Regions from separate parts of the Homo sapiens genome. Here all the other regions are linked to region 4. The links come from fine-mapping of genetic effects on gene expression. A gene starts in region 4. Each other region holds a variant in brackets. All regions are shown on one strand. Distances are between the middles of the regions. Region 1 has its middle 37 kb from the start of KLF5. Region 2 overlaps BORA (BORA aurora kinase A activator). Region 3 overlaps PIBF1 (progesterone immunomodulatory binding factor 1). Region 4 holds the start of PIBF1 (progesterone immunomodulatory binding factor 1). Region 5 overlaps PIBF1 (progesterone immunomodulatory binding factor 1).

The links.
Region 1: its variant is fine-mapped to the expression of PIBF1 in lung (TOPMed, PIP above 0.99). The same link has a PIP of 0.9 or more in esophagus mucosa and stomach.
Region 2: its variant is fine-mapped to the expression of PIBF1 in fibroblasts (GTEx, PIP above 0.99).
Region 3: its variant is fine-mapped to the expression of PIBF1 in monocytes after interferon gamma (Fairfax 2014, PIP 0.95).
Region 5: its variant is fine-mapped to the expression of PIBF1 in NK cells (Gilchrist 2021, PIP 0.90).

Annotation. Positions count from the first base shown.
Region 1 is chr13:73,019,503-73,024,610 of GRCh38, forward strand. No RefSeq gene overlaps it. Among named protein-coding and RNA genes, the nearest start is that of KLF5, 37 kb to the right of the region's middle. The variant A/G (reference allele first, on the strand shown) is at 2,977.
Region 2 is chr13:72,738,006-72,743,113 of GRCh38, forward strand. It overlaps BORA (BORA aurora kinase A activator), which reads left to right. Exons shown (of 12, transcript NM_024808.5): 5 at 1-38. Among named protein-coding and RNA genes, the nearest start is that of BORA, 13 kb to the left of the region's middle. The variant G/C (reference allele first, on the strand shown) is at 2,570.
Region 3 is chr13:72,962,807-72,967,914 of GRCh38, forward strand. It overlaps PIBF1 (progesterone immunomodulatory binding factor 1), which reads left to right. Exons shown (of 18, transcript NM_006346.4): 15 at 2,468-2,598. Among named protein-coding and RNA genes, the nearest start is that of KLF5, 94 kb to the right of the region's middle. The variant A/G (reference allele first, on the strand shown) is at 2,522.
Region 4 is chr13:72,779,006-72,784,113 of GRCh38, forward strand. It overlaps PIBF1 (progesterone immunomodulatory binding factor 1), which reads left to right and starts at 3,128. Exons shown (of 18, transcript NM_006346.4): 1 at 3,128-3,344; 2 at 4,418-4,716. The coding sequence starts at 4,465. It overlaps DIS3 (DIS3 exosome endoribonuclease and 3''-5'' exoribonuclease), which reads right to left and starts at 2,895. Exons shown (of 21, transcript NM_014953.5): 1 at 2,600-2,895; 2 at 1,841-1,998. The coding sequence starts at 2,827. RefSeq lists enhancers at 2,087-3,001, 2,919-3,028 and a silencer at 2,589-2,638.
Region 5 is chr13:72,928,882-72,933,989 of GRCh38, forward strand. It overlaps PIBF1 (progesterone immunomodulatory binding factor 1), which reads left to right. Exons shown (of 18, transcript NM_006346.4): 14 at 2,284-2,386. Among named protein-coding and RNA genes, the nearest start is that of KLF5, 130 kb to the right of the region's middle. The variant GTATA/G (reference allele first, on the strand shown) is at 2,837.

The DNA of each region.
Region 1 (5,108 bases), 240 kb after region 4:
CTACCCAATGAAGACTGTACTATATATTTATAGGCCATACTTATGAACACGTGTATATATATTTATATAAGATCTACCTATCTAGGATGGAAACTCGGGTGAAAATAAAATAGGGTGAAGGTAAAAAGTACGTAGCACTTCCAGTTGTGAGCCAAGATTGTAACTAGAGAGCAGCCAGGAGCTTCCTGTCAGTAACCATGTTTTCAATAAATACTCTCTCATGTACAACAAATAAATAAAAAGCTGCTGCTCATATCTGAAATGTTCTCAAGTGAAACTGATGTCAGGAATTTATTTTCCCTTGCCTAATCTTACAGGATTAAAATTTGGGTTATTGGCTGGGCGTGGTGGCTCACGCCTGTAATCCCAGCACTTTGGGAGGCTGAGGCGGGTGGATCACGAGGTCAGGAGAGCCAGACCATCCTGGCTAACACAGTGAAACCCCGTCTCTACTAAAAATACAAAAAATTAGCCAGGCATGGTGGCGGGTGCCTGAAGTCCCAGCTACTTGGGAGGCTGAGGCAAGAGAATGGAGTGAACCCAGGAGGCGGATCTTGCAGTGAACCGAGATCGTACCACTGCACTCCAGCCTGGGCAACAGAGTGAGACTCTGTCTCAAAAAAAAAAAAAAAATTGGGGTTATTGCAACTTTCCCGCTGATACTGGATAGGCTAGCAGTGGATATTAGCCTATCCAATATCAGTGAGAAATATATTTTATTTTCATATAACTCATTTTAAAAATTAATAAATACTATAAATGCTCTAAAGAAAGACTTCCTAAGGCTTAGAGGTCACCAACAAAGCTAGCCAACTAGTACCAAGAGTATCCCGTGGTATCATTTACTTTGGTTGATTTACAGAGCTCACAGTCCAGTCCTCAGCTTTACAGGCTCAGAAATTTAATTTTGTTAGTGCACTAAAGATGACACGTCTTTCAGGAGTGTGCCCATATTTACTGGTGCATAGATCATAATGTTTATGTATTACTTCTGAGAGAAAAGTAAAACTGATATACAGAATATGACTTATTGGAATCAGCACACCTGGCATCTTCTCTCCCTATTTCCTCCTAGCTTCTGCCATACTATACACTCATATTTTTCTCCTTCATCCTCCTCTATTACCTGATCATAAAACACTGAATTTTTCAGAGCTTTTTTCCCTCTAAGCCTATTCATTCCATTCTGTACTTACTCTCAGATAATTTCTACACCCTGGCTTCAGCTACTAAATGCCAATATTTGCAAACGTACGTCTCCAGTTCAGACGGTTCCTTTTAACCACCTGCCTACTTGACATTTCTACTTGGATGTCCCATTGTGACCTCAAACTTAACATGTATTAAACTGAACTCACCAACTTTCTCCTCCAGTGTTTTCAATTTCAATAAATGGTACTACCATTTATTTACTCAGTGACTTATACCACAAAACCAGGAGTCATCCAAGACCCTTCTCTTGTTAACTACCAGCATTCAATTACCAAGCCCTGTTGATCTGCCTCATATTTTTTTTTACTTTTGATTGTGAAAATTTCCGGCCGGGCATGGTGGCTCACGCCTGTAATCCCAGCACTTTGGGAGGCCTAGGCAGGAGGATCACCTGAGGTCAGGAATTCGAGACCAGCCTGGCCAACATGGCAAAACCCCGTCTCTACTGAAAATACAAAAATTAGCTGGGTGTGGTGGCGCATGCCTGTAATCCCAGCTACTCGGGAGGTTGAGGCAGGAGAATTGCTTGAAACCGGGAGGCGGAGGCTGCTGTGAGCCCAGGTCGTGCCACTGCACTCCAGCCTGGGCGACAGAGTGAGACTCTGTCTCAAAAAAAAAAAAAAAAAAAACAGAAAAGAAAAAAAATTTTCAAATACACAAAACGGCAAAGGAAATGTCAAGACAGGATATATTCATTGTCTTGATTGTGGCAATGGTTTAACAGATATATACCTTTGTCAATATTTATCAAATTGTACATTTTAAAATGTACAGTTTTGTTTTGTTTTTTTGAGGTGGAGTCTCACTCTGTCACCCAGGCTGGAGTGCAATGGCGTGATCTCGGCTCACTGCAAGCTCTGCCTCCTGGGTTCAAGCAATTCTCCTGCCTCAGCCTCCTGAGTAGCTGGGATTACAGGCACCCGCCACCACGCCTGGCTAATTTTTGTATTTTGGTAGAGACGGGGTTTCACCATGTTGGCCAGGCTGGTCTCGAACTCATGGCCTTAAGTGATCTATCCACTTCAGCCTCCCAAAGTGCTAGGATTACAGGTGTGAGCCACCTCACCTGGCCAAAATGTGAAGTTTATTATATGTCAGTTGCACCTCAGTAAAGATGTTTTTTGAAAGGAGGAAAGAGGGAGAGAAGGAGGACGGTAGGCGGGTGGGCAGGCAGTCAGGCAGGCACCATCTAGAAAGCCCTGATGAAGCCAATGACTTAACAAACATCAATGAATGCTAAAACAATTAGATAAAGGATAATAGGGAATATTATATCAGGCCATAACCACCTATAATCACTAGTCAACCTTAGTATCATTAAAATGAGACAACCAGACATTATGTGCTTCCTGATGTGATGTGATGTGATGTGAAGTATAAAGCAATACATGTATAGTATTTTTGTCAAAAATTTTAAGATTTTAGCTGAATCAAATTGAGTCTTCAGATCCAACTTCCAATCTACAGGCAAAACAAGAAAGAGAAAATCAAGCTAAAAGACGCCAGGAGGAAGCAATTGACTAAATCCAGAACACGGAACATTCTGGGCACTGGGAAGGACAATTGCTTTTAGGCCTTCCTTATTTTGAGGCATTTTTAATAAAGCTGTAAAATAATACGTTTTTAAAGAGAGGGAAAAACTCATGAGTTCCCACTGATATATCCAATTCTAATTTGAAATTTAAAGATTTCAATTCTCTGATTTTACATGTGTGTTTCATTTCCTGTGTGTGAATTGTTAACACAACCTTAGCTCAAGCCATC[A/G]TGTCCTCCTCCCTAGGATTCTTCGGTAGTCTCCTAACTGGCCTTCCTAAATTTACTCATGCCATTCTCCGCAGCAAAGAATGGATTTTTTTTACACTGTGATTTTTTATTTTGAATTTAACCTACAGTTTATACAAGAGATTTATAAGACATGAACTTGGAAAACAGAACAAAATGTAATTGAGGTATAAGAGCACAGTATGTCATGTTTCAATAAATATAATTCAAAATTTTTAAATGATCAAATAGATGAGCCTTGCGTTTTACTAAACCCATGTGAAATATTTGTTTCTTGCATGGGAGGTAGAGAAAAACTGTATTCCTTAATGCAATCACCACAATGTTTATCATAACATTGTACATCACCAACAAATTTTTAAAGTATTAACTATTTTGATCATAATGAGTGTTTGCAATAGTTGCAGAAAGATATTTCACTTACTGCCTTCACAGACTATTAAGTTCAGAAATAACTTAAAAGCTACCGTATTGGCATAACATCATCAAGATAAACAAATATTTCCTAAATAGATGCATAAAAACATATATTTTATTGTCCTCAGCCCGTAGCTCCTAAAGGTATCTTAAATTTAGCCAATCCTTTTAGCTCTTGCATTTTAAATATGCTATGCTTCCTTTATTTTTATTTATTTATTTATTTATTTTTTGAGATGGAGTCTCACTCTGTCACCCAGGCAGGAGTTCAGTGGCACAATCTCCACTCACTGCAACCTCCACCTCCCAGGTTCAAGTGATTCTCCTGCCTCAGCCTCCTGAGTAGCTGGGATTACAGGCGCCCACCAGCACGCCCAGCTAATTTTTAGTAGAGACAGGGTTTCACCATGTTGGCCAGGCTGCTCTCGAACTCCTGACCTCAGGTGATCCACCCCACCCGCCTCAGCCTCCCGAAGTGCTGGGATTATAGGCATAAGTCACCATGTCCGGCACTTCCTTTATATTTAAGGAGGGCATCTATAGTTGAGAAAAAGTTTCCCAGATTTTTTTTTGTCACAAATAGAATGAAATGCAATGAATAGAACAGAATAAAAATGACTGTCTTCTTAACCCAGAAGCAATACAAAATATCCATGCACTTTTCTTCTAATAATGGAAATGCATACATATCCCTTGATAAGAAAAGAAAAAAAGTCTTAAGCTCTAAACATTTAAATTATTCAGTTCCACAGCTTATAATACAGCAGTTACGTTCCTTGTTGATAGCTTCATAAAAACTACTAAGTAGTTTCAAATGCATAGTAAAAGCACAATTTTATCTTAATTTTCTAAAATGTCCAGTCATGTAAAATAAAGAGATCAAAAACAGAGGAAAAAAATTTCATTACAATTTTTTCCTTCAAAAAAATCAAAACTTAATTCCAATAAATGAGAAGGAATGTTAGCTGACAAAAATGAAAAAAAAAAAAAATGGCTGGGAGCAGTGGCTCATGCCTGTAATCCCAGCACTTTGGGAGTCCGAGTGGGAAGATTGCTTGAGATCAGGAGTTTGAGACCAGCCTGGCCAACATGGCAAAACCCCATCTCTACTGAAAATATAAATAGTTCCAGCTACTTGGGAGGCTGAGGCAGGAGAATCACTTGAACCCAGAAGGCGGAGGCTGCAGTAAGCCAAGATGGTGCCACTGCACTCTAGCCTAGGTGATATAGGGAGAAAAAAAGAAAAGAAAAGAAAAGAAAAAGGGACATAATATTAACTTTGGGGCTGGTGTTTAGTTTGTGGGGATAGTTTCTGTCTCCTGAACCCTGGAGGGAAATGCAACAAATCTAAAAAGTAGTAGAATAACCCCAAAGGTGTGTTCATGAATGTTTAACCATCAGCTCCCAGGAAAAAAGACCCTGATTTTCATAGTGGGGCCTAGATTTTCATGGCAGGATGGAATGAATGAATACTCCCACTATGGCCAGCGTAGAGCTACCAAAATGGGGCTAGGAAGAGGTGCTTACACTCAGCTCACTGGGCTACACCATTCCAGCAAACACTGCCCAGGCCACAGGGTACAGGCCCTGCCTGATCCAAACCCAAACTTCTTTTGAGCTCCTCCATGGTATTCAGTGGCCTTTTTTGAATTCCTTAAACTCTTCCAGCTGTTTCTTTTCTCAGGCTCTTCACCACA
Region 2 (5,108 bases), 41 kb before region 4:
TGAAGGGAAACAGCTTTCACAATGTCATTCCAGTAAATGTGAGTGTACTAAAAATGATATGAATAAAAATCAAAAAAGTCGGTGAATATAAAGCAACATATCATGAAGTGCCAGTATATCTGCTTTGTAAGAAGCTTGCTTTAAAATTCTGGATAACATAGAATTTAACTCCTTTTAGGGTTAGAATTAAAAATTTGACTAAAATTTATTGAATTGTTTTTTAGCTGTTATACTCTGAATTTAACTTTTTCTTCATGACTATTGTGAATGTCAGTTATAATGATGGTTATAGAGGATCCATAGATGAAGAAATAGTTGGTATTGAATATAGAGATGAGTTGTTAATGACTTTAGCAGTATTTTGAAGGTTAATATTTTAGATAAAACCGTAAATTGTGTTGCCTTTTGCTAATTTGCTGATTTCTTATAAAGGTAAAGAAAGGATGAAGACTTAATATGACCTCTGGGACAGTGTATTATTGCTGAGTATCTGCAAAATTAATAAGGAAATTAAAGGGCAAGCCAGTAAGCTAACAATTATCTTTCTACCTCCAGGCAATGGTTGTCATATATTTGTTCTCACTGCTCTTTGGGTTGTGAGGCAGTATTCAGGAATCACTTGTATATATGCATCCCTCATCACAGTGGAATTACACTGTCTATTGTAGTATACCTTAATTATGCTCTCAGTATAAGAGGGAATGTTTGTTCCATTCTTTATCAAAAAACACAACATAATAATACAACAATAATAGGTAAGCTGGGTTAGTACTTTCTCTATGCCAGGACAGTGCTAAGTGCTTTCAGTAATTTCTTATAACTCATATGAAGTAGGTGTAATTATTGGCCCCATTTTATAGGTAAGAAAACCTAGTTTTAGAAAGATGAGAGCATTTGTCCAGGGTTACAGAGATGATAAAAGTGGGAAAACCTGAATTCAAAATTCTCAAATCAGATGCTGTATTCTTAGCCATTATGAATTAGTGGTAGCACGCAATAGTAGATGGAAATCTGGATTGTAAAACCTCCTACTTTTATAAACCAGAGAGGTGACCTTGATCAAATTATTCTCTTTGTACCTCAGTCTTTTATTTGTGAAATAAAAGGATTGAACTAGAGTTGTCCATTTACATCCCCCCAGCTCTAAAATTGTGTGTCCAAGGTGGCATTCTCATAGATACTAGTTTTTCACCCCCAGATTCTTTACTGTTGGATTTTTTCAACAGATGAATCAACCTTCTTAAGTGATTTTTTAAATAACATTTTTGTATTCCAAGTATCCTGTTTTAGTTCAAGTGATGCAGGATCAAGAAGATGCTTAAAAACACTTTAGACTCTTTGAAATCTAATCAAGCCCACGATAACAGTGCAGTGGTTAATAGGATAGGCTCCAGAGCTGTGCTGTTTACTGTGTTGTTGGGAGACAATTCTCCATAGGCCTCACATTTCTGCACACCTTTCATGAAGTGGCATGGACAAGTTCTGTTCCAAACTATCTTTTCTAGGGTGTTTGTCTTGGAAGGTAGAGATAGTGTGTCCCACCAGAGCAGAGGGTAAGTTTGTTTTGCTGTCCAGTATAGTAAAGATGATGTCTCCCTCTGGAGCAGATTTGTTTGCAGTCTCTCTTAAAAGAATGGGATTTCCTAAGCTTGGGGTTCCTTAGCTATGGTGAAAACCCATTGTGTGTCCACCAGCCACCTGGGTATTTTAATTTAGAATCTTTTAAGATAGAGAGCACTCCTCCCATGATTAGGAGAGACACAAGATGGAAATAAAAATTTTATTACTTACAAGTCCTAGGGGTACACAGCATACCTGAACACCACACAGGGAGGTCAGGAAGAGAGAGAAAGGGACCCATGGGCCAACGCCTTTATTGGGTCCAGGGCATTATCCAAACAGAGTTTTAGTTGGTGGGTTTAAAGCAAGCAGGCATGCATTGAGGAGGTCACACAGTGACTGAGAGATAGTCACTGTGGCATGTCTGTGTAGTCCATGTGCGGTATGAGGGTTGGGGGGTCAGTCAGGTAGGCCATATGTAGATGGCCCATAGGGAGGTGGTTACCAGGAGGAATTTATATAAGGCAGATATCTGGATCAACCACATTGAGGTATAGAACTGGAAACTGTGTCGGGTGAATGAGCCCTGCTTTTTGTATGAGAAAGTCCAGCTTGTATGCAGAATTATAAGAATTCACTGCACTGGACTGTTTCATGTCATCTTCTTGGCACTTGGGAGCAAAGGGAATTAATAGGAATGTTAAGTTCATGCTGCCTGCTGTGCTGAAAATAATAAAGTCCTTTATCTCTGCCCCCAGAAGCCTCATGTCTTTAGCCAGCACCAATGGAACTTTGACATGTTCACCTGTTAGTTGCCAAGTTGGGTAGAATCTTAGACCCTTTATAGTTCTTGACAGTTGTGGCCACGTGTGACTATTTAAATTTAAAGTTAAATTTAAAAATGGAGTTCCCCATTCACAATATTCACATTTCAGGTGCTCAATAGCCATGTGGATATCGAGTAGTATAGATAGAGAACATTCCCATCATCACAGAAAATGTTCTATTG[G/C]ATGCTACTTTAGGGCCAAGGTTGGCAGCCCTTAAGTGTAAAGGATTCAATAATAAATACTTAAGCCTTTACTGACCACACAACCTCTGTTGGAACCACTCCACTCTACTGCTGTACCACAAAAGTAGCCGCTGACAATATGTAAATGAATGTGAGTGTGTACCAGTAAAACTGTATTTAAAAAAATAGGTGAAAGGCCAGATTTGCACCATGAACAATAGTTTGCTGACCCTTACTCTAGTGTAATATTATCTAGGTTTGAATTGTACCCAGTAAAGCTCACTAGCTGTGTGACTTTAGATGAGTTACTTAGCTTTTCTGTGCCTCAGTTTCCTTATCTATAAAATGATGGTTATTGTGGTACCTCTAAGATAATGTACCTAGCACATGGTGTTTGGTTATCTACCTAAAGATTAACAAATAAAATGGTGAATGAGGGGAAAAGTGGTTTTGTTTATACATGTTAGCTTGTGCTGGTAGCATTTACTATTATTAATATTTATGCAGCAAGGTGCTTCAGTGCATATCCTCATGTGTTTTTATTTATGGACTTGAGTGAGAATTTCCCTGGGATATATACGCAGGTAGAGGATTTCTGAGTTATAGAATATATCGTTACCTAATCTGACTACACAGTATTAGAGTGCTCTCTAGAATATCTGCACAGTCTGCACAGCCCCAGCAGTCCCTAGGGTTCCTGTGTCCCAGCATCCCTGCCTGCCCTTGGCATTATCCAGCTTTTACATCTTTGCCTTTCCTATAGGTTATTTGACATTCTAAATGATTGTTTCAGTTTTCTTTTTGTCTTCATAGACTAATGACCTTTTACATTTCATAGAAAATGTCTATTTGTAATTCATTGATATGTTTCAATTGGAGTTGCTAACCTTTTTTTTCCTGTTAATTTCTAAGATACCTTACATATTGTGGTTATATTGGTCTTAAACATTTCAAATGTTATCTCCCATTCTGTCATATGTATGTTACTCTTTGTTCTTGATATCCTGGGTTGCATAGAAATTTTTATTTTGGTGCAGTCAAATCCATCGATTTTTTTTTTTCCTCATTTGATTGTGGTCTTAAACTTGTCTAAGCCCTTCTAGGGGAAGCAACCAAAACACTTGGAATAGAGTTGAAAAGTGATGTGATAATGTTGCTGTAGGTGTCTTTCTGGTCTGAGGAAGGCAAGGAAGGCATGCTGGCAGAAGATAAAATTTAAGCTGAGATTTGAGTTAGACTCTTGGAATGCAGGGGAGAAAAGGCAGGGAGGAGAGAGCATAAGATAATACCTAGAGATGAGAGAGATACCTGTTTCTTGTTTGTTTGTTTTAGGTACTCAAATAATATTTAATTAGATGGCAACCATGCTAGAGAAATAGACATGGTTTTGAAAGGCTTTGTAAGCCATTGAGGTGTTTGGATTTTATCCTAAAGACTATTGCAGGGTTTTAGGCAGAGAGAGTATTGATTACATCTGCCTTATAGAAGGTCACTCTGCATGCAGTGACAAAGTCATCTGCATCCAAAATTTTCTTTATTTACCCGTTTTGATAGTATTTCACAGGGAAATTTAATTTATTCAGCAACCCACTTACCCATTTTAAAATTTAGAATTGTTAGGTTACTACACTCTATTTTGTCATTTTATTTTAGAATTCCTGAGTTGTTTCTGGTTTTGGGGGGAGGGGGGGTTTGTTTGGTCCCCTTGCTTTTTCTTCCTTTTATCTTACTTATATTAGTCTTTTTGAGATGGTTTTGGTTTTTGAGTTTTTTTAATCTGGTGATTTTTCAATTTATAAAACTTTAGAGTTAAAATAATTTGCACCCATATTTTTAACTCTTCTTGTGAAAGAAACTATATGGTTTTATTGATCAAATTTCAGGTTTTGTCAAAATAATCTGGCATTTTAATCTGTTGAGGACATTGAGGGTAGCTAAAAGGTATCCCTAACCTTTTAAGGTTGACGTCATGAAGAGTAATCATCATTTCCTTAAAAAAAAAACATTACTTTGGGATTCATCAGTCCTACTACTGGGTATTTATCCAAAGGAACCAAAATTACTATTTCAAAGAGATACCTGCACTCTCATATTTATTGCTGCATCGTTAATCACAACAGCCAAGATATGGAGTCAACCTAAGTGTCCATCAACAGATGAATGGACTTTTTAAAATGTGATATATATATATATACACACACACACACACACACACACACACACACACACACACACACAAAATGGAATACTATTCAGCCTTAAAAAAGAGGAAATTTTGTCATTTGTGACAACATATATGAATCTAGAGGACATTATGCTAAGTGAAAAAAGCCAGCCACAGAAAGACAAATACTGAATGATTTCACTTATATGTAGAATCTAAAAAAGTCAGACTCTTAGAAGTAGAGAATAGAGTGGTGGTTACCAGACGGTAGGGAGGAGGGGTGGTGGGGGAGATGTTGGTCAAAGGGTACAAAGTTTCAGTTAGACAGGAGGAATAAGTTCTGGTGATCTGTTGCACAGCCAGGTAACTATAGCT
Region 3 (5,108 bases), 180 kb after region 4:
GAACCCTAAATGGCCAAAACAATCTTTAAAAGGAAAAACAAAGTTGTAGGGCTCAGATTTCCAGATTTCTGAACTTACTGTAAAGTTACAGTCAGCAAAACAGTGTGCAACTAGAATAAGGATGGACATAAAAACCCACGGAATATTAATAGAATAGAGCCCAGAAGTAAACACTTGCCTATATGGCCAGTCGTTTTCAACAAGAGTGCTAGGACCATTTCATGGAGAAAAGCCAGTCTTTTCAACAAATGGGGCTGGTAAAACTGAGTATCTACATGCAAAAGAATGAAGTTGGACCCTTACCTTACACCATATTCAAAAGCTAACTCAGACTGGATCAGAGACCTAAATTTAAGCATTAAAGGTATAAAATGCATAGAAGAAAACATAGGAGAAAATCATAACCTTGGATTTGGCAATTTCTGCAAAAGGACAAGCACAAAAACATAAAATAGATAAATTGAATTTCCTAATTATAAAAAATTGTGAGTTAAAGGAGATTATCAGCCGGACCCAATGGCTCATGCCTGTAATCCCAGCACTTTGGGAGGCCAAGGCAGGCAGATCACTTGAAGTCAGGAATCCGAGACCAGCCTGGCCAACATGGTGAAACCCCGTATCTACTAAAAATATGAAAATTAGCCAGGCATGGTGGCGCACGCCTCTAATCCCAGCTACTCAGAAGGCTGAGGCAAGAGAATTTCTTGAATCCAGGAGGCGGAGGTTGCAGTGAGCTGAGATCGCACCACTGCACTCCAGCCTGGGTGACAGAGCAAGACTCCATCTCAAAATAAGTAAGTAAGTAAATAAATAAGATTATCAAGAAAGTGAAAAGACAACCCACAAAATGGAAGAAAATATTTGCAAATTACATATCTAATAAGACTATATTATTAAGAATATATAGAGAACTCCTACAACTCAGCAACAACAACAAGAAAAATCACAATTAAAATACAAGCAAAAGACTTGGGAAGACTTCTCTCCAAAGAAGATATACAAATGCCCAGTATGCACATGAAATAATGTGCTTTGGCCAGGATGTGGAGAAATTGTAATCAAATTTCTTGCTGGTAGGAATGTAAAATGGTATCACCACTGTGGAACCGTTGCAGTTCCTCAAAAAGTTAAATATAGAATTACCATATGACCTAACAGTTCTACTCCACTTCTAGGTAGCTACCCAACAGAAGTGAAACAAGAACTCAAGATATACAGTATTTGTCCACCAATGTTCATAGCAGCATTATTCACAATAGCCAAACAGTGGAAACCCAAGTATTCATCAAGAGATCAATGGATAAACAAAATGTACTATAAACATACAGTGGACTATTATTTACCATTAAAAGGAATGAAGTTCTGATACATGATACAACATAGATGAACTTTGAAAACGTCACACTAAGTGAAATAAGCAGACAGCAAAGGACAAATATTGTGTTATTCCACTTATGTGAGGTATCTGGAATAGGCAAATTCACAGAGACAGAAAGTAAGATACAGGTTTCTAGGGCCAGGAGGGAGGAGAAAATGGGGAGTTTTTGTTTAATGGGTACAGAGTTTCCATATGGGCTGATGGAAGTGTTCTGGAAATAGAAGTGGTAGCTATTCAACATTATGAATGTACTTAATGCCACTGAATTGTACACTTTTCACATGATTAAAATGGTAAATTTTACATTATATTTTAAAACACATTTGTCAAAAATTTATACATAATGATTTGGATATATAAATTATGTATTTTTAAAACAAGGGAATATGAAGAAATGAAAAAATTATTGAATTATGGTGTGAATATTTTTAGTAGAAGTAAAGCTGAAATAAAAGAGTTTAACTTTTAGCTAAGTGTTTCCATTTTAAAAAGATATATTTTATGTCATATAGCTTTTCAGACCAAGACAAATACTAAGAAAATTTAAGTTTATGCATTCTCAAAATTGCTATTAATATTTTATTTAAAATTTTTTCAGCCAGGCGAGGTGGCTCACACCCGTAGTCCCCGCACTTTGGGAGGCTGAGGTGGGCGATCACCTGAGGTCAGGAGTTCAAGACCAGCCTGGCCAACATGCTGAAACCCCATCTCTACTAAAATTACAAAAATTAGTGGGGCATGGTAGCAGGCACCTGTAATCCCAGCTACTCGGAAAGCTGAGGCAGGAGAATCACTTGAACCTGGAAGGCGGAGGTTGCAGTGAGCCGAGATCGCGCCACTGCACTCTAGCCTGGGCGACAGAGCGAGACTGTCTCAAAAAAAAGAAAACAAAAAAAATTATTGTTTATAGTTGCTATTAAGAATAGCTATATTGATTCACTCTTAAAACCTTCAAATTTACACAGGAAAAGCTTTTCAGAATAATTCATGTCAAAGGAATTTCTGTACTATATTTGTGCTAGAGCATTTTGAATGATTTTATTTTGTTGTCACATTTTCTAGATTTTAATGAAACCTGTGTTTCTTTAGCTTGACAGAGCCAATTCGCTATTAAACCAGACTCAACAGCCTTACAGGTATCTC[A/G]TTGAATCAGTGCGTCAGAGAGATTCTAAGATTGATTCACTGACGGAATCTATTGCACAACTTGAGAAAGATGTCAGGTAAACCATCTACAAATCTTTTATTTGAATAATAAAGACATTGTTACCATATTGCTGCTGTAGGTGAATTTGGGTTGTAAATCATGAACAGAAAATTTAAATAATGAAGGTGTCTTAAATGTAATGAATATTAAACTTTTCTTAGAAAAACTAAGGTCACATCACATCAGGTGTTCACATTCCACCTGTGATCAGATGTCTTAGCATGGAAATAACAATGTTACACTTATGAGCATAACATTCCATCTATCCTAGAGGACACAACCGCTATTGGTCCTTGTTTCCCTAGAACTCTTTAGTGTGGTGTAGATTGACCAGAGGGAGAGGAGGAATAAAACCAGATGCCATTTGTGTCGTTAAAATGGCTTTTTAAACAACAACAACAAAAAATTTACATTTACTTAGATTTATGTTGATTTTTCCAAGGAATTTTTAGGCTTTTCTTCTGACCTTTTACATGAAAGTAACTTTTAAGTGTAAATAAATAAATTTCTTTCACTTCCTTAATTTGTAATTGTTTCTGTATGAGATCTTATCCAAAAAAAATTTGCTATGACCAGTTTGGTTTTTTAAACTGAAATTAAAGAATGAAGATATGTGTAAATGAAACAGTTTTACTTGTGGATAGATGGTTAGTTTGCTTAGTTACTAGATTTCCAAGATTATAAGAATAATTTAGATTTTTATGGGTAAATTATTAACTGATTATCAATGTAAAAGCAGAGAATTAAGTGGGAATAGAAATGGTTAAATCAAGGAATTGGAAAACAATAAGGAGAAGATGGTTGTTAAATCCAGGTTTCTTAAAGTATGCAAACAAAAATATAAACCTATTGGTAACTAATTCCAAAGTATAAATGTTATTTTTAATGAATCACAGTAATTACCTTCTTTCATTTCTACCCCACCAAAATAATTGGTCTAGAACTTTATTCCTGTTCTTAATTTTTTATGATTTGTTTAAATAATTTAGGAGCACATTTATACCTTAAATGTGTCAAAATAAATAAGTTTGTTTCTAGATTAATTTTAAAGTTAAAAATTCTGTATACAACCTACAATAATAAATTAATTGTTCTATAAATAGTTCTTGGGGACAATAGAAATTATGTCTTTCACAATTCACTGGGCACCTGATTATCTTAGGGAAATTGAAGAAAGAACCCCAAATAGAATTTTTTCCTCCTATGTTACATATTTCTGTTAAATTTGAATATTTTTTGGCCAGGCGCAGTGGCTCACACCTGTAATCCCAGCACTTTGGGAGGCTGAGGCAGGCAGATCACCTGAGGTCAGGAATTCTAGACCAGCCTGGCCAACATAGTGAAACCCTGTCTCGACTACAAATACAAAAGTTAGCTGAGCATGGTGATGCATGCCTGTAGTCCCAGCCACTCTGGAGGCTGAGACAGGAGAATCGCTTGAACCGGGGAGACGGAGGTTGCAGTGAGCTGAGATCATTTCACTGCACTCCAGCTTGGGCAACAGAGTGAGACTCTGTCTCAAAAAAATTAAAATTAAAATTAAATTTTGAATCTTTTTTTTTTTTTTGAAACGGAGTCTCACTGTCACCCAGGCTGGAGTGCAATGATGTGATCTCTGCTCACTATAACCTCTGCCTCCCGGGTTCAAGTGATTCTCCTGCCTCAGCCTCCTGAGTAGCTAGGATTACAGGCACACGCTGCCACGCCCAGCTAATTTTTGTATTTTTAGTGGAGACAGGGTTTCACCATGTTGGTCAGGCTGGTCTTGAACTCCTGACCTCATGATCTGCCCTCCTCGGCCTCCCGAAGTGCTAGGATTAAAGGCATGAGACACCATGCCCGGCCTTAAAATTTGAATCTTTTATATGTCTTATTTTACCATTATTTCTTGTGATGAGGAGGTATATAAAAATCCTGAGGAAAAAAATTACTCCTTTCACAGTTATCTCCAAACAAATTTATTTGATTATTTATTTTACTAAGAATTAAGGTAGCTTAAAATGTTTAATATAGAGAAAATAATAGCTAGCTGTAGGAGAAAATTATAAAGATGAACAAATTCAGCCATAGAGAAATTAAGCAACTTGTCCTCTAAGAACATGCAACATTGTGATAGAGTAAGAATTCAATTTTATATCTGTCTGCTTGCTAATTCTATTCTCCTAACCATTAGGTTATACTGCCCCTCTATGTTCTATTCTGAATAAGGGATAATATTTCTTTAGCTAAAATAATTAAGGAAGAGAACAAAAAAGTAGTGTATCATAGTGATTAAAAGTAGCACTTTAATGAGTTGATCGTTGTTGAAGCGGGGTGATAGATATATCAGGGTTTGCTATTACATATTTTCTCTTCTGAAATATTCTATAATAAAATTTTTTAAAAAACAGATTTTAAAAGGAAGTTTTCAAATTCAACTCAGTACTTAGTTTTGAGTTAGGGCAAGTAATTTAAACTCTCTAATACCTCTGTTGTCCAATAGAACTTTCTATAATGATAAAAATATTCCATATCTGGCTGGGCACG
Region 4 (5,108 bases):
AAAGTTCACTACAATAGCTTCCAGTACTTAATGGTAATAGATTCAATTTAATAATTTGATTTATATTAATAGTTTTAGAATTATTTTATTCCTCATCGTTGAATGCACTTGCTAATGCTTTTTTTTTTTTTTTGAAACAGAGTCTTGCTCTGTAGCTCAGGCTGGAGTGCAGTGGCATGATCTCAGCTTACTGCAACCTCTACCTCCGGGTTCAAGTGATCCTCCCAACTCAGCCTCGCAAGTAGCTGGGACTAGAGGCATGTACCACCATAACCAGCTAATTTTTGTATTTTTAAGAGACAGGGATTTTCCAGGTTGGCTAAGCTGGTCTGGAACTCCTGGCCTCAAGTGATCTGCCCACCTCAACCTCCCAAAGTGCCAGGATTACAGACATAAGCCACCACGCCCAGCTGCTAATGTTTTAAGCTCATCAGTGAAAGACACAGTCATAAATTTTTGAATTGGTTTTAAACTTGGGTCTTTCTGCACTGAAAAACAAGTGATGTTGCTATTTCTGGATTTCAAGGAGGTACTAACAATAAGAAGCCTACAAGGGCTTTACTGGTATTCTTTACAAGAACATTGAAGTTTGAGATATAAGAATCAAGAAAGTTGAGATATTAAGGTTTTTAAAAATGTGCATAATCTGATGGAATTTCATTACCAGAAGTCTACACTCTAATCCAATGGTTCTCAATTGAGTGAATTCACCCCTCAGGGCATTTTGTATCATTACAACTGAGTGGTGGTGGTGGTGGTGGTGGTGGGGGGGGTAAGGGGTGGTGATCCTGCCAAATAGGCTAGGAACACTGTTAAACATACTACAATGTATAAAACAGCCTTTCCACCACAAAAAAATTATTCAGTTCAAAATATCTATAATGCCAAGATTGAGAAGCCCTGATCTAATCCAATAAAAGTACCATACTCATCATAGATTATTTATGTAATATAACGTAATAGGCAATATCATATTTTTGAGACCACACACTGAGTTCAAAGGTCTTGAATCTAAAAGCACAACAAAGAATTATATTCCTGGCCAGGCACGGTAGCTCATGCCTGTAATCCCACCACTTTGAGAGGCTGAGGCAGGTGGATCACGAGGTCAGGAATTCGAGACCAGCCTGACCAACATGGTGAAACCCTGTCTCTACTAAAAATACAAAAATTAGCCTGGCATAGTGGTGCGTGACTGTAATCCCAGCTACTCAGGAGGCTGAGGCAGAAGAATCGCTTGAACTTGGGAGGTGGAGGTTGCAGTGAGCAGAGATCACACCACTGCACTCCAGCCTGGGTGACAGAGTGAGACTCCATCTCAAAAAAAAAAAAAAAAAAAAAAAAAGAATTCTATTCCTTAACCTAATCTTGCTCAATGTAATCAGCTGCAAAGTATTAAACTTTTAAAAAGACCATTAAGAATAAATCTACTTTCTATTTTTAAACAAAATAGAAACTTCACAAACTCATATATTTTATTACCCTCTGTTAGTTGTTCACATAATATGGTATTCCAGGAACTTAAGCAAATCTCATCTTCCAAGATTCTATGGTCCAACTCATGCTAAAACCAATTCAAAATGAAAACATTTTGGAAATTAAAGTACCTATTGTAGTCTAGGAGTCAGCAGACCTTGGTTTTAGGCTTGAGCCCATCAATGCCTGTGTGACCTTAGAGAGATCCACTTAGCATTATCTTCTGCACAGCCATGTAAGAATTAAATAAGGTATGAAATCTATCACTTATCTTCTGACAATGTCATAAATTACTCACAGGAACCCTCTCCCGAATTTTGCTAATCCTGTGGTTTTCTGATATTTAACGTAATATTCCTCCTACCTATGGTGCTCATTAGTGAAAGTATAGAAATGCTTCTCTTGGTTATTAGTCACATCTCGGATGCGTTTATATACGGGGGCACTGCGATTTCTCACTTCTTGAAGAACTGTTTGTAGCACAATTACATTCCTGATGGCAGGGTCCTCAAGAACATCAATCTTAAAGAAAGATAAAGTTAATTTTTCCTATATTCATTTGTAAATAGCTCTGTCAAACATAAAATCCTGTTTTATGTTGGGCATAAATACTTTATGTTTTAAAAACACTGAATAAGTTAAGCCAAGAAGCTATTTGGCTATAGAAAACGAGACAATAGTCACTAAACCCTTCAGATCTATTAAAAAAAGCACACTTAAACAGACCAATCACAAGACTTCGTAGAATTAAGGGTATTAATAAAGGAATACGTTGGCCCACATAGTTTTTTGTTCCTAGGCACTTACAAGCTGCCTGGGAGTCGCAGGCTGGAGGCCACAGAAGCCCAGGTCCCCGGCCTCCAGGCACTTACAATCTAAGGCAGAAGAGACACCAGGAGTTAGAAAAATAACGTGTCTGAACTACGACTCCAAGAACTAAATTTTTTAAAGCACAAGGAAAAGAACCTCGGCCTGGGGAACAGGAAGCTTCGGTCCCGAGGGGGTTTCCCTTTCGCTAGGTATGTGACACTGCCAAAGACCCGCCTCCCTGGGCCTCAGTTTCCCTGTCATACCCCCTTGTCCCCGTGGGGCCGCGCTGTCCGCGGTTCGCCCGCCCACGCACCTGGTGCAGTAACACATTAGTGTCGGGCAGCAAGTAGTGCGGTTGCGGGCAGACGCTGCTCGCCGGGTCCTGGGGCTGCGGCTCCAGGGCCGGCCCCTCGTGCGCCCCTCCACACGCTGCGCACCCGGGCGCACCGCAGCCGATGTCGTCTCGCAGGTAGTGCTCGCGCACGATCTTCATCACGCCGCCCGCCCGGGTCTTTTTTAAGAACGTCTTGGACTTGAGCATCTTGCCTCGCCGCGCAGAATCCTAACCCCAGCAGCGCTCTTCCAGCAAAAGGCGTCAATCTAGAATACGCCTAACCCCGGAGGTTCTTCCCTTTCCATTCCCGGATATTAGTAACACTTCTCGCGGGAAAATGCCGAGATAAACATTGGTTGGCTCTCTGACGGCCGCGGGGATTGGGCGAGAGTGGGGAGGGGCGGCAAAGCAAGGCGAGGAGCCATTTCCGCCCGTGGCCTAGGCGGGGCTTCCTTCTGGACGCCACCTCACAACGTGTGTTGCTTTCCGCTCCTCGGAACATCCGGGAGAGTTGACTTCCGGCGGCTTGTGGGAGTGCTGGTTCTGTCCTCCTTGCGGGTGCGGAGATGGTTGTCTTGGTTACGGGTCCTAACGGTCCCCTGCCTTGAAATCCCTTGTTGAGGGCCTGCAACCTTGTGCTTCCGACCGGAGACGCCTTTGGTCCCTCGGTGTCTGCACTGGCTGCTGGTCAAGGCTTCAGTGTGGAGTAATTGACACTTTCGAGGTAACTTGCGACTATCATCGCTTTCTTTCCCGCGTGGGGCAAGGAATCCCCCGAGCTGCCAAGTTTGGGGCTTAATTTTCACGCCGAGTGTATAGGCAGTCCCCGTCTCGGGCCCTTTGTAATCGAGGAGAGAATTTGTCTTTGAATTCACTTTTTCTTACCTATTTCCCTTCAAAAAGAAGGAGGGAGGCCGATCTTAGTATAGTTCTCGCTGTTTCCCCTCCACACACCTTTCCTTATCATTCAGTTTAGAAAAACTGAAATATTTAATAGCATAATTTGTTATATCATGAGGTATTAAAACAAGGTAGTTGCTAACATTCTTATGAGAGAGTTAGAAGTAAGTTCTATTTAGAATTTCTTGAATTTTTCTTATATCCTGTTGTTTTCATTCTGCTATCTATAAAAAATGTTTTTGTCCCCGTTTTCCCTATTTAAAACATCTTCAATGATGCCTCATTGCCTGTAGAATAAAATCCAACCCTATTTTGACATTTAAGGCCTTCCAGTCTTGATCGTTAAGGGCGTGTGTGTGTGTGTGTGTGTGTGTGTGTGTGTTTGTGTTTGTGTTGGGGGGGCGGTGAAAGGAGTAACTATTCCAAGACTTGGCTTTGTTTTTTTACTTCCACTTACGTATCATTAATAACTGCATGATTTCTCCTTTTTACCATGCCTGTCCAAATCTTTAAAGATTCTAAGTGCTACCTCTGTGTAACGTTTCCCTGACCAACTCAGACGTGATTTCTGTTATCTTTGAGCATGTGTTGGTTTTAGTGGTGCCATTCTTGATTATAATGGGCTTTTTTCTTCATCTTGTACATTTCTTTGTTTCCTCCAAGTAAGATTCCTCCCCGCAGGAACTGTTTTTTTAAGTTTCTCGAAGGCTGACTTCATATTAGGAATTAATGTGTTTGATTTGAGCATTAACTTAACTGCAATAATCTGTTCTAGATTTGGGATGCACTAAATTGCCTAATATTTATTTAAGGAATCCTTAGTCTCTCTTTAATACAGTCCATGATTTCTGTAGTTAATTTTATAGTACATTTGAATTAATGTTTTTTAACCTACAGAATATTAAAATCAAATTAGAGAAGAAAACTGATCCATAATAATAAAAATGTCTCGAAAAATTTCAAAGGAGTCAAAAAAAGTGAACATCTCTAGTTCTCTGGAATCTGAAGATATTAGTTTAGAAACAACAGTTCCTACGGATGATATTTCCTCATCAGAAGAGCGAGAGGGCAAAGTCAGAATCACCAGGCAGCTAATTGAACGAAAAGAACTACTTCATAATATTCAGTTACTAAAAATTGAGCTATCCCAGAAAACTATGATGATCGACAATTTGAAAGTGGATTATCTTACAAAGGTAAGATCAGGTTTAAATTTTGTGTTCTATATGCTTTATTGTCTTCAAACGGCAGGTAAATAAGAATTAAATACACACATTATCTGAACTTGAAATGATACATTTATATTTCTTGACAAGTACAGCCTTTAAATAATTTTGGTGTTCATAGAAGTAGAGAATAGAATGGTGGTTACCAAGGGCTGGCATGGTTAGGGGTGAAGGAGGGTTGGGGAGATGTTGGTCAAAGGATACATAATTACAGTTGAATAGGAGGAATACATTCAAGAGATCTATTGGACAGCATGGTGGCTATAGTTAATGACATTGTAATCTTGGAAAACATTGTGTTTTTGAAAAACACAGCAGATGTTAAGTGTTCTCATTACTAAAATAACTATGTGAGGTAAAAC
Region 5 (5,108 bases), 150 kb after region 4:
GATGTCTTCAAGTCATTATCTTGTTCAGATTGTTGGTAATATGTGACCTCTGCATCTCATTTTCTTGCATGTCTTTGTCTTCCATTTCATTCATTTGTAACTCTAGTTCTGTGTAATTGCATTTGATTGTGTTTATTGTTCTATACTGAGTATACACATACTTGTTCTACACCTTCAACATATTTATTGAAAAATTACCATGTTTAAGTGACCCTAGTGTGAAGTTCTGTGGGACACAAAAAGATAAAAAAAAGTTAACACCTAACATGTATGAAGAGTAAGAAAGCAAGAATAAAAATGTGAATAAAGATAGCTCCAAGATTTTTTAATTAACCTAATAAAAATAGAGCTAATGATAAACTGATGCTTGCAAACGTATAATGGAATCAACGGATTTTAAATGCAAAATTCACATTAAGGCTTATTTTATTTGTAGAAATCTTGTTATTTTAGGGTCAAATTAGAGAGAACTTAGTATATTTTTATTGGGAAATGAAGAACAATATAGTCATAAACTGTAAACTCCTTAAAAATTTATAAAGAGAGAAAGATTAATGGTTCCCTAAGGTTGAATTTGAGGAGCAAAGGAGGAAGTTGGAATGTGGGGAGGATGGAGAGTGACTGGTAATGGACACAGAAATTCTTCTTGAGATAATGAAAATGCTCTAAAATTAGATTATAGTGATAGTGGCACAACTCTAAATATACTAAAAATCATTGAATTGTACACTTTAAATTGGTGGACTTTATGATATTTAAGTTGCATATCAGTAAAATTGTATGTCAGTAAAGTTTAAAAAAAAAGTGGTTGTCAAAAAATGAGGACTGTATGCTTTTTCCATCTCTAATGCCAGTTGAAAGAATTTTAGATCTAAACAAGCAACTCAAATCACTTTATAAACTTTTGCCAGAACTCATCTTTTTTATTTGGTATGAGTTCTTAGAAATAGATATATAGAATGATATTTAACACTATTTATTATTATTATTATTTTTAGAGACAGGGTCTCTGTGTCACCCCAGGCTGGATTGCAGTGGCACAATCCTAGCTCACTGTAACCTCGAACTCCTGGGCTCACGTGATCCCCCCATCTCAGCCTCCCAAGTAGCTGGAACCACAGGCATGCACCATCATGCCCAGCTAATTTTTGTATTTTTTGCAGAGGCAGGGTCTCACCCTGTTGCCCATACTGGTCTTGAATTCCTGGCCTCAAGTGATCCTCCTGCCTCAGCCTCCCAGAGTGCTGGGGTTGCAGGCATGAGCCACCGCGCCTGGCCTTAACATTATTTTTTAGAATGTTGTCTGCATTTCTTTATCTGATATTGGGAAATATTAAAATACAATAGAATTTTTTCTGCCCTATGATTTTATTTAAAGCACAGTTATCTTACTTTTTGTCATTATAAAACATTCCATCTAGGATTCCATGGATTCTGCAATTCACAGATTAATAGGTTAACTAGTATAAAATATGAAAATATGATAAATATGAAAATGTTAAGTTACTGGAAATGCAGAGAGGTTCTTTGGAGCAATATGTCTTCTCAAAATTATTAGCAGTTCTTTAAAGAAATATACCACTTCCTCCCACCATAGTTAGAAGGAATAGATTTTATTCTTAAAATTGTTTCTTAAAAGTAGAATTGAGATGTTTCATATGTAATTTTAAATACTAAAGGTCAGTGCAATAAGTTATGGTAATGCAGAGCATCAGAGGGAGTGATTTTTTTCTTTTAGTACAGAAGCTTAGCCTTTACTATAGACATTCTCTAAGTTTTATATATCTTTTTCATCTCCACTTTCAATTAAAAACCTCATTTTTGTTTTATATTATAACATGCATTATGTTGTTTAAAGTAAACTCTGATACTTCTCAAAGTGATAAGCTAATTATTGTTTGTAATATTTCAACTAATTTTCTGATTTGTAATTGGAAAATATTTATAAAAGTGGAGACAAGCTGTAAATTGCTGTATTGTGGTCTTTTCAAGCAAGTGTTATAATGTTACCTCTCCACTTTTATAGCAAGGGCTAAAAACCGTTACTGCAGTAATCAGTCTATCACGGTTATGTTTTAATGTTGTTACTCTCATAATTCTGAGTTGTGGGGTATTGGTCTTCCACTACTGGTGCCTGAAAATATTATTTGACTCTATATTTTTTCTGTTAATATTTAAGTATAATTAGGAAATGATGTCTATTTTCAAGTACACAAACACATTTTGAATATTTTGGGCAGTATTTCACTTTTAAGCATTAATTTTCTTATTTCATTTGCCTAGTGTTCACTTGGCAAGAAGAGTGCTTCAATTAGAAAAACAAAACTCGCTGATTTTAAAAGATCTGGAACATCGAAAGGACCAAGTAACACAGCTTTCACAAGAGGTAAATAACTTAAAGAAACCCATATGAAGAATCACAGTATTCATTTTAATTGTTTGTAACTCTTTTATTTTTCTAAGCAGTTTTAAAATAAGCTGTTTGCTAGTACAAAATGATTTCACAATTTATGAAACTAACTGAATGTTAAGGCCATAAAAAACAACTTACAGTGTATGGCAAAACTGAGAACAAAAGGGAGATTAAATGCCCAGACTAAGTATAAATGCAGACTAGACAGACAGAGCTTTGATTTCTGAGAATATCAACTGGTAAAACAGGTTTGGCAAACTTTGGTGACATTTTAAGTTTTTTACTAATCATTTTTAAGATAGATTTGGTTTTTACCTCTGTGTTTAATGAGAAATCACTCCTCTGTTAAATTTAACTTTGTTTACACTTAGAAAATCAGGCTCATATTGCTTCTTTTTCTTAGCCTTATGTCATTTAAACTAC[GTATA/G]TATATATATATATATATATATGTATGCATTTTACATAGCATTTTTAATCATCTTCTGATGTCAAGATCTAATTTTATTTTTCTGTACTTTTGAAATGCGAGTCATAAAACAATTTAAACCGGAGGTACTACTTTGCTAATGTTCCTTTTATTTATTTATTTAATATTCCTGAGTGTCAACATAAGAAGTTTTTCCGTTTTTTTCTTTGTTTCTTTCTTTTTTTTTTTTTTTTTTTCTGAGACAGGGTCTGGCTTTATCGCCCAGACTGGAGTGCAGTGGCATGATCACAGTTCATTGCAACCTCTGCCTCCCAGGGTCAAGGACTCCTCCCTCCTCAGCCTCCCAAGTAGCTGGAACTGTAGCTACGCACTACTGTGCCTGGCTAATTTTTGTATTTTTTTGGTAGAGACAGGGTTTCACCATGTTGCCCAGGCTAGTCTAGAACTTCTGGGCTCAAGCGATCCACCTGCCTAGGGCCTCTGAAAGTACTGGGATTGGAGATGTGCCACTGCACCCAGCCAAGAAGTTAATATTTTAAAAGTTTTAAAAACTATTTCTCTTATAACAAAGGGTTTTTTCAAGTCATACATTAAATAACATTAATATATGTTGTTTATTATTTGTTTTCTTAAGGATCTGTTTATATTCTTTAGAGTGTCTTTTCATACTATAACATTAGGAGGATCTTTATCCTCAAATTTCGAAAGACCAGAAATACTTCATTTTATTGCAGTTCCTGACACATAGTTAATGCTTGGGGTTGACACAGTGGTGTGTTGGTAAATGTTAACAGCCAGCTTTCCAAGAGGGATATGAGGGAGAGCTTGATTTGTAACATTGGCTTGTATCTCTTTTATAAATACTCCCACCATGGCTGACTTCAAACTACCAACCTAAGGTTACTGAAGATGGAGTAAAGATTGTCAGCAGCATACCAGTACTTAATGTTTGCACCATACAGATACAACAGACATAGGTAAACTCAAGAGCACAGATAATAGTAAAATAATTTTAAATTGACAAATTTGATTGTTTTTACCTTTGTTTTTAATAAAATGTATTTTACTATAAATTTAAATAATTTAGTTTAGTTTTTAATGCTAGTTGTGTTTGATAGCCAGCCCACAAAATTCCTAAAAATTTTCAGGATTCATTTGTACTTCATTCTTTTCATTGCTGAGTAATTTCTTTGTGTGGATGTACCAGTTTGTTTATCCATTTACTTGTTGATGGACATTGGAGTCATTTCCAGTTTTTGGAATAAAGCTCATATGAACATTCATGTACAAGTCTTTGTATGAAATAATAGAGAACTCCTACAAGCTGCTGCAAGCCAAGTCCAGCACACTGCTAGGTGGAAGCAGAAAAGATAATAAACAAACAAACAAACCTCTGTTTGCTAATATATTGTAGATCCCTCATGTTGCCTTTAATTTCACAGTAATTTTCAAAAATATTTTTTAAAAGTAAAATATTAAAATACATGCCTTCCTGAGCATTTCAGTTAATTGAAATAAGAATTTCTAAATGTGGGCTGGATGCAGTGGCTCATGCCTATTATCCCAGCACTTTCGGAGGCCAAGGCAGGAGAGTCACATGAGCTGAGGAGTTTGAGCCTTGGCTACAAAGCAAGATCCACCATCTCTAAAAATAAAGAAGCCGGGTGCACTGGCTCATGCCTGTAATCCCAGCACTTTGGGAAGCCAAGGCAGGGGGATCACTTGAGGTCAAGAGTTCAAGACCAGCCTGGCCAACATGGTGGAACCCTGTCTCTACTAAAAATACAAAAATTAGCTGGGCATGATGGCACATGCCTGTAATCCCAGCTACCTGGGAAGCTGAGGCACGAGAATCACTTGAGCCTGGGAGGCGGAGGTTGCAGTGAGCTGAGATCGTGCCATCGTACTCCAGCCTGGGCAACAGAGGGAAACTCTAGTCTCAAAAATAAAAAGAAAGAATTTCTAAATGTGAACACACGTCTATAAATTGTTGGGAGAAAATGTAAGAAATTAAGTGTTAAATGCTCCTATAATTAAGTATAATTAACTTTGTATGAAACCATTTTTAAATAAGCTATGGCTTATATTGAGAAAAAGACTTAAATGCTGAAATATTTATGATGTGAAATGGTATGGTGCCTGGAATTTGCTTTAAAATATTTCATGAGAAAAGGAGGAAGGGCTTAACAAATAAAACAAGAATCACAAAATGTTAATAATGTTTGAAGTTGGATGACGTTTACATATAGGTTTAGTAGTGAGTTCTGG